Homo sapiens: one gene and its partner. The protein of the gene in region 1 interacts with the protein of each later gene in a pairwise test. Each region holds a gene or a part of one and is shown on either strand. Other genes may lie near its edges. The genes, in order: PAN3 and SVIL.

Region 1 (3,823 bases):
ATCAGAAATTAGATTATATCCATGCTCTTATTTTAGTCTTTATGGCATGTTTTGCTTATGGGTTTACCTTGTACTAGCTGGAATTGATGCCTGCTGACATTTGTTTATAGGTATAGATAGTTTAACCTCAGTAAGAAGCTAGAAAAAGTAGATGGTATGTCCTCAGTAGTTACTGGAAGCAAATCAATGATAAACCCTTATTTCAGATGAGGTAGTTATTTAACAGCTAGATCTGTGGATGGTGGAGTGACACATAATGATAAGGGGCCTGCAGTATGGCTCTTATGCTCAGGAGATAGAGTAGTCAGACCCAAGAGAGCCATGATTGTAGATGACGAAAGAGCTACCAAAGGACTGGCGATGAAGTGAGGGAAGAATCGTGAAACAAATGGGAAGAGGTGGCCCCAGAGGAAACATGAATATTAAGACCAAAAGAGGAAGAACATGGCCAGAAAGAAAGATTTCTTATCAGAGTCAATTAGTAATGTTCCAGGAGAGGGAGAAGGAACAGGAGTCAGGGGGCGAGAATGAATGGGGAAGGAGAGGGAAGGATTCCATGTTACGTAAATTGTACCTTTTTTAGCTTCATTACTTCATCCATATTCAAAAATTATTTTATTTACCCTAGAAAAATAAGTAGTAGATGAAGTGAGTGAGAAAGTCAGAGTCCACTAAAACAGGGGTCCTCAATCCTTGGACCAGAGACCAGTGTTAGGAACCAGGCCGCACAGCAGGAGGTGAGCAGTGGGCGAGTAAGTGAAGTTTCATCCGTATTTACACCCACTCCCCATTGCTCTCATTACCATCTGAGCTCCTCCTCCTGTCAGATCAGCAGAGGCATTAGATTCCATAGGAACATGAACCCTATTGTAAACTATAAATATATTGTAAAATACATATATATTTTATATATATGTAAAGTTATTAAATTATATAAATATATATTATATATATTATATATAATTAATATATATTATATATAAATTATATATAATATATAATTAATTATATATTATATATAAATTATATATAATATATAATTAATATATAAAATTATATAAATATATATATTTTTTGAGATGGATGTTCGCTATTTCACCCAGGCTGGAGGGCAGTGGTTCAGTCTTTGTTCACTGCAGCCTCCGCCTCCTGGGTTCAAGCATTCCTCTCACCTCAGCCTCTAGTAGCTGGGACTACAGACGCACACCACCATGCCTGGCTAACTTTTGTATCTTTAATAGAGATGAGGTTTCACCCAGTTGATCAGTTGGCCAGGCTGATCTCAAATTCTTGACCTCAAATGATCCGCCCACCTTGGCCTCTGAAGTGCCGGGATTACAGGCGTGAGCCACCATGCCCAGCCTAAACTATGCTATCTTATGTAAGGAAACCAACACAAGAAAAAAGAGATATTATTCTCCCTGCAGACACAGGCTAAAGGAAACCTTACAAGTATCACAAAACTGCTTCCTAGTTGAGATGCAGAGCAGAGCAGTCATGTTAGGGCAGCGCAAATCAGCTGAATTCGTTTTTAAAAGAGAAAAAAGGTTTCATTGTTTAAAATGAAAGAATGAAAAAATAGAAAAGATATTTAAAACTGAACTTTGATTTTGTATCATGGACCAGTGAAGGAGAGGCAGAGAAAAGAGTGATAAAGAGAACAAAGGGTGGTGGGATGAGTCCAGTTGAAAGAATGAAAGACAAGAAGCTGGAAGCTGATTTAGTAACTTTATTGTAGTTTGCTTGGAAGGTAAATGTATTATTGTATCCTTCTGTTCACTTAAACTGCTGACCTAGAGTAGGTTTGAATAACACTTTGTTTAGTTTGGCCACAAAATGCCTGTGAAAGGGGAAATTCTTTGGGCAGCCAGGGCAATATCACTTCCTTATCTCCCAGTACCCAAACACCTTTAGTTTCTCCTTCCTTCCTTCCAGTTGCTTTCAAAAAGTGGCGATGAACTGCTTGTATAGTTGCCATTTAGTATCCAAGGGGGATTGATTCCCGGACGCCCACAGATAGCAAAATTCCTGGGTGCTCAAGTCCCTGATATAGAATGACATAGTATTTGCATAGATCTTATACACATCCTCCTGTATACTTTAAATTATCTCTAGATTACTTATAATACCTAATGCAGTATAAGTGCTTTGTGAATAGTTGTTATAATGTATTTTTAATTTGTATTACTTCTCATTTGTTGTATTGTCATTTTTTTCCCCTGAATATTTCCTACCCATGGTTGGTCGAATCCTTGAATACAGAACCCAGGGATACAGAAGGCTGACTATGTGACATTTCTTCCAAAGAGCTACTTTTATCTTCTCAATGGAGCTTAAATTTTACTGTATCTGAAGAAATGTTTTCTTTCTCATTAGATTTTTTTTTTTTTTGAGACAGAGTCTTCCCCTGTCCCCCAGGCTGGAGTGCAGTGGCACGATCTCGGCTCACTGCAGCCTCCACTTCCCAGTTTCAAGCGATTCTCCTGCCTCAGTCTCCTGAGTAGCTGGGATTATAGGTGCCTGCCACCAAGCCTGGCTAATTTGTGTTTTTTTTGTTGTTTTTTTTTTTGAGATGGAGTCTCGGCTCTGTCACCCCAGCTGGAATGCGTTAGTTCAATCTTGGTGCACTGCAACCTCCACCTCCGGGTTCAAATGATTCTCCTGCCTCAACCTCCCGAGTAACTGGGAGTACAGGTGCATGCCACCACACCCGGCTAATTTTTTGTATTTTTAGTAGAGACAGGTTTCACCATGTTAGCCAGGATAATTTTTGTATTTTTAGTAGAGATGGAGTTTTACCATGTTGGCCAGGCTGGCTCATTAGATTTTTAATTGATTACTGAAATATTATGTTTATTTTTATTTTTTTAATTTTTTATTTTATTTATTTATTTATTTATTGAGACGGGGTTTCATTCTTGTTGCCTAGGCTGGAGTACAATGGCACAATCTCCACTCACCACAACCTCTGCCTCCCTGGTTCAAGTGATTCTCCTGCCTCAGCCTCCTGAGTAGCTGGGATTACAGGCTTGCGCCACCATGCCCCACTAATTTTGTATTTTCAGTAGAGACCAGGTTTCTCCATTTTGGTCAGGCTGGTCTCGAACTCCCAACCTCAGGTGATCTGCCCACCTCAGCCTCCCAGAGTGCTGGGATTACAGTTGTGAGCCACTGCGCCTGGCCGAAATATTATTTTTAATATGAATTCTTTCAGAAAGTATTCTCTAACAGCTATTCTCTGAGGTTTTTACTTCAATATTATTTAAAGATTTAAAATGTATTAAAATTTATTGCTATCATGTAAAGATTAAAATTTTATCAAAACAATAATAAAGCTTATTGATTATGAAAAATTAGTCAGGCTGGGTGTGGTGGCTCACACCTGTAATCCCAGCACTTTGGGAGGCCGAGGCAGGTGGATCACCTGAGGTCAGGAGTTCAAGACCAGCCTGGCCAACATGGTGAAACCCTGTCTCTACAAAAATACAAAAATTAGCTGGGCATGATGGTGGGTACCTGTAATCCCAGCTACGTGAGGCTGAGGCAGGAGAATCACTTGAACCCGGGAGGCAGAGCTTGTAGTGAGCCGAGATTGCGCCACTGAACTCCAGCCTGGGCAACAGAGCAAGACTCCATCTGAAAAAAAGAAAGAAAAATGAGTGATTACATTTACCCCCTTCCTACCTTTTTAGGTGTTTCCAAACTATCATATTTATCCTCCAACTGCACCTCACGTTGCTTATATGCAACCGAAAGCAAACGCACCTTCCTTCTTCATGGCTGATGAACTCCGACAGGTATGCTTTCAGAATTCATAGTAGGA
Region 2 (3,823 bases), on another chromosome or scaffold:
CAGAGGTGCATGAAGTAGGCTGGGTCCACAAGATTCCCCCTCCCTAAGGCTTACAATTTTTATTTTTTTTGAGATGGGGGTCTCACTGTGTTGCCCAGGCTGGTCTCAAACTCCTGGCCTCAAGTGATTCTCCTGCCTTGGCCTCTCAAATAGCTGGGATTACTGCACCCAGTAGGGATCTCTATTCAAGCACGTCAGCACAGCTTACCCTGAAAAGCAACCTCTTGGCGGCGACGCTCAGCTTGGCTCGTTCATCCACCTTTTCTTCATCTGCAAAAAGCCACAAATTAAAAACTGGACATCATTAGAGAAGGTTAAGTTCGGTCTCCAAAAAGTCTTTCAGGGCTGACCTGGAAATCTTTGAATACAACAATAGGTGCACTAAAATAATAATTGGTGGTAGTTTCCCCTTGCAGGGAGCCCATTCTTTCTGCTCAGTGAAAAGGTACTAATTTCCCTTGCAATTCAACCCAGCCAAACCAAAGCAAACTCTGTCCAGGGATTTCTACTCTAACGTTTGTCTGATCGAGATTTCATGAATATATTTTATGGGGGGAATTTCTTTTAGTTTTAAATAGTAGCAGCAGCAACAACAAGAAGAACCTGCTCCTTTGGTTTGAATTAGTTGTTTTTACATTGGTCACTGTATGATTCTCTAACTGCTCTCAAAAAGAAGGGAAAGCTTGTCTGAAAATTTCAACTAGATTTTATCATATCCACAGAACGAAAACCTGCAGCAAAGGGAGACACTGTTATGCTCCATCATCTTACTCTCTCAAAAAGCCAAAAACCTTATTATTAAATCCAGTCTAGATGAGATAATAAAGAAGAAAAAAAAGGGAAACAGGTACTTGCCATCGACAGTTGGCGTTTCTGAATGTGAAGTGCACCTAGGAAAGACATTAGCAAATAACAATAATACATTAGCAGGTGGGAGCAGAAGATCGAAATAAAACATCATACTGAAAGTAAAAATAAAAATGCAATTAAATTCTTTTAAGAAATAACCTCCTGGTAGCAATTCTAGTTGTGAAAACACACATACAGTTGTGAAGCAACACTGTGGAGCGTGTGTGCACACAATCCCAGCCAAGTACACACCCCGTGGAGAGAGACCAGGCACAAGAACAACTTGTTAAACACCACTGATGACAATTTTCCAGACAAATCTTACCATTTCTATGCAATAGTATATGACACTTCAGTATAAAACTCAAATACAACAAGTAGATGGACATTTATAAAATGAATATAAAATTCCTCAGTTATTTTCACTGTAAAATCTGGTGAATATGCAATCTGGAGTCTAATTTAACAAGGGGTAAAAAACATTAAAACCATTAAATAAAGAAAAATAATGTTTCTTACTTCTTATCATCTGAATGCAATGTAAAATTGTGTATGTATCATAATACCGCTGTAAAGGCTAATATTCTTTAAAAAGACTTTTAAATAAGCCAAATAAATAACGCTTATAGGTTAGATGGAACAATTATGGAATCGCCAACATCCTATATAAATAGCGTCAAGACCGTCAGTGTGGTAAAACTCCTGTGTCATTGCCACGTTCCTGGATGAGGAAACTGCGCATACGCATGCCTACCTATCCGATTCCTTTCGTTCTGCTGAAGTTATAGGTTGGGTTCTAAATCTCTCGGAAGTTTTTCTACTTTCACCAGGAGAAAAATAGCGTCTTGGTTTCCGGGACCCTCTCTCCCGTTCCACACCGGTGGGCAAGCCAGGTCCTTCAGCCGACCTCTCCACCCGTGATTTGCTTTGAGAATCAAAGGGCAGAGAGTATAAGGAAGGCAAACGAAGACAGAGAAAGAGAAGATGGCAAAGGATTATGCATCTCCGTGAGTCAAGGGACAGACACCACCAAACCCCTCTTCATGCCTCTACCATGCACGTAAGGAAGGAGACATTCCAGACACCCAATCCACTAGTTCCCCATTAGTAGGCAGAAGCAGAGTGGTAGTTTTTGAGCCATTTTCCGCATAGTCGCCCTGCACGCACTTGTGAGCTAAGCTAATATGATTCAATGCAGAACACAACACAGGTCGAGGAGTGAATCATTCTGCCAGGGACGTGCAAGTGACACAGCTGGAGGGCGTGTGAAGCATCACCTACAGTTCAGGTCTCCTGCAGGCGTTGGCAGATGCCAGGAACGCACTTCGGAGCTGGGCGACAGAGACTTTTGTGTCCAGCATGCTGATCTCCCCATAAGGCCCTTCGGTCTTGGAGCTGGGCAGCTCCAGCTCTCTCCTGGAAGCTGGGTCCTTATACTTCAAGGCCTGGAGCTGAGGGGGGCCTGTGAAATCTGACAGAGAGCGGGTACGGACCTTGCGCTTTTTCGAGGCTTCCCTGTTGTGACCAGTTGGTTTGGCGTCTTGGGACACAGGCTCACTTTGAATGTAGAGAACCATCTCGCTCCTGCCTGTCCTCTCAGTGGGCTGGTGCGGAGCTTGAGGGGGTTGTGCCACGTTTTCCAGTTCCTTCTGATGCTCTAAGGTGACTGTGCTCACAGCAGGCTTACCAAAGTCCTCATTTCTAGAGGGATCTTCTGGGCTTCTCACTAGCCCATCACCCTCCAAAGCCAGTAGGGTTTTCTTGCTTTGCTCGAGAGCTTCAGTGAAGCACACATCTTCTTCTTTTTCTTCTCCTTCTCCTTCCCCTTCTTCTTCTTCTGCTTTTGACTCGCAGACATGGAGAACTGGGCTATCCCTTCCGTCACCTTCTAGAACCGTCAAGCTGGGAGGTTTGGGGACATTCTGGGTGGCTGATGCTACCCAGCTACACTCAGATGCATTTTCTGGGGTTTCTGGCGTCACTAGCTTGGCGGTGTGACCGGTATCTGCGGGTTGGACATAGCCACGGATTGGCTGTCGTGTAGAGCCTGCTGCCTTGCTGGGGACCCTATCAAAGGCTGAGTGCTCAGACTGAAATGACACGTAATGGACTGGCGCTGGCTGGTGTCTCCTCTGAGTTACGGACTCTGAGGCGAGTTCAGGGCTGTTTCGAGCACTTTCCTCTTTCACCAATTTTTCTCTAACTTTAACTCTTTAAGAAAGAAAAAGGATTTAAGTTGCAAAGTGCAGTAACGGCCTCACAGGAGGAAAGCATGCGTAGATCACAGATTACCAGTGAATGGAAACTGACCTGAGAGAGAATAACTTGTGAAAAAGCATTTTGGTGTCTAATGTCAACTACTTGTCAGATGATCCTGAGTTGAGTTTCCAATTTGCATATGTATGCCCAGGAGGTGCAAAACTAACTCTACCCCTGTAAAAGCTGGCAGGGGTCAGATGCTATCCTGGGGGAGAATGGGTCCCTTCTGACTAAATAAATACCCAGAAGCCACAGAAAAATGCGTTAATATCCACCACCAGCATGCATTAGGGCATAATGAGCCTGGTCCCTTGAATCAGTAAGCTTTCCTCATGTACACGCCCAGAACACGGACTGTGGGGGAAGGTTCCTGGCATACAGACACCTATTGACCAAACGCTGTAATTTCATTGTCGTCTGAAAATGTAAGAGCACTCACGATTATTTATGCTTTTTATTTAGTTCAAGATACAACAATCACCTCTCTTTTAAAGCACTCAACTAGACATTCACAAGCTTTTTCATGCAATGCAGAGTATATTCATTCATTCAGAAGGCATGTGGCCAGTCTGGGCATCATTATGAATAATTCTAGCACCAAAAGAATGTTAGAGAAAAGATAGTTGCTGACAGAACTAATGAAGTGAACATTTCCCACCACCATCCCCCTGTCCTGCTGTTATGCTCTTAGTTAAAAATGAATCCCAAAAGAGAG

The links.
Region 2: the proteins of PAN3 (region 1) and SVIL interact in a two-hybrid assay, tested with the Homo sapiens proteins (one study listed by BioGRID).

Annotation. Positions count from the first base shown.
Region 1 is NC_000013.11:28,256,755-28,260,577, forward strand, and holds part of PAN3 (PAN2-PAN3 deadenylation complex subunit PAN3), read left to right. Parts: intron 1-3,692; coding exon 3,693-3,797; intron 3,798-3,823. UniProt on the Homo sapiens protein: Regulatory subunit of the poly(A)-nuclease (PAN) deadenylation complex, one of two cytoplasmic mRNA deadenylases involved in general and miRNA-mediated mRNA turnover.
Region 2 is NC_000010.11:29,530,399-29,534,221, forward strand, and holds part of SVIL (supervillin), read right to left. Parts: intron 3,061-3,823; coding exon 2,131-3,060; intron 1,775-2,130; coding exon 1,604-1,774; intron 891-1,603; coding exon 856-890; intron 271-855; coding exon 209-270; intron 1-208.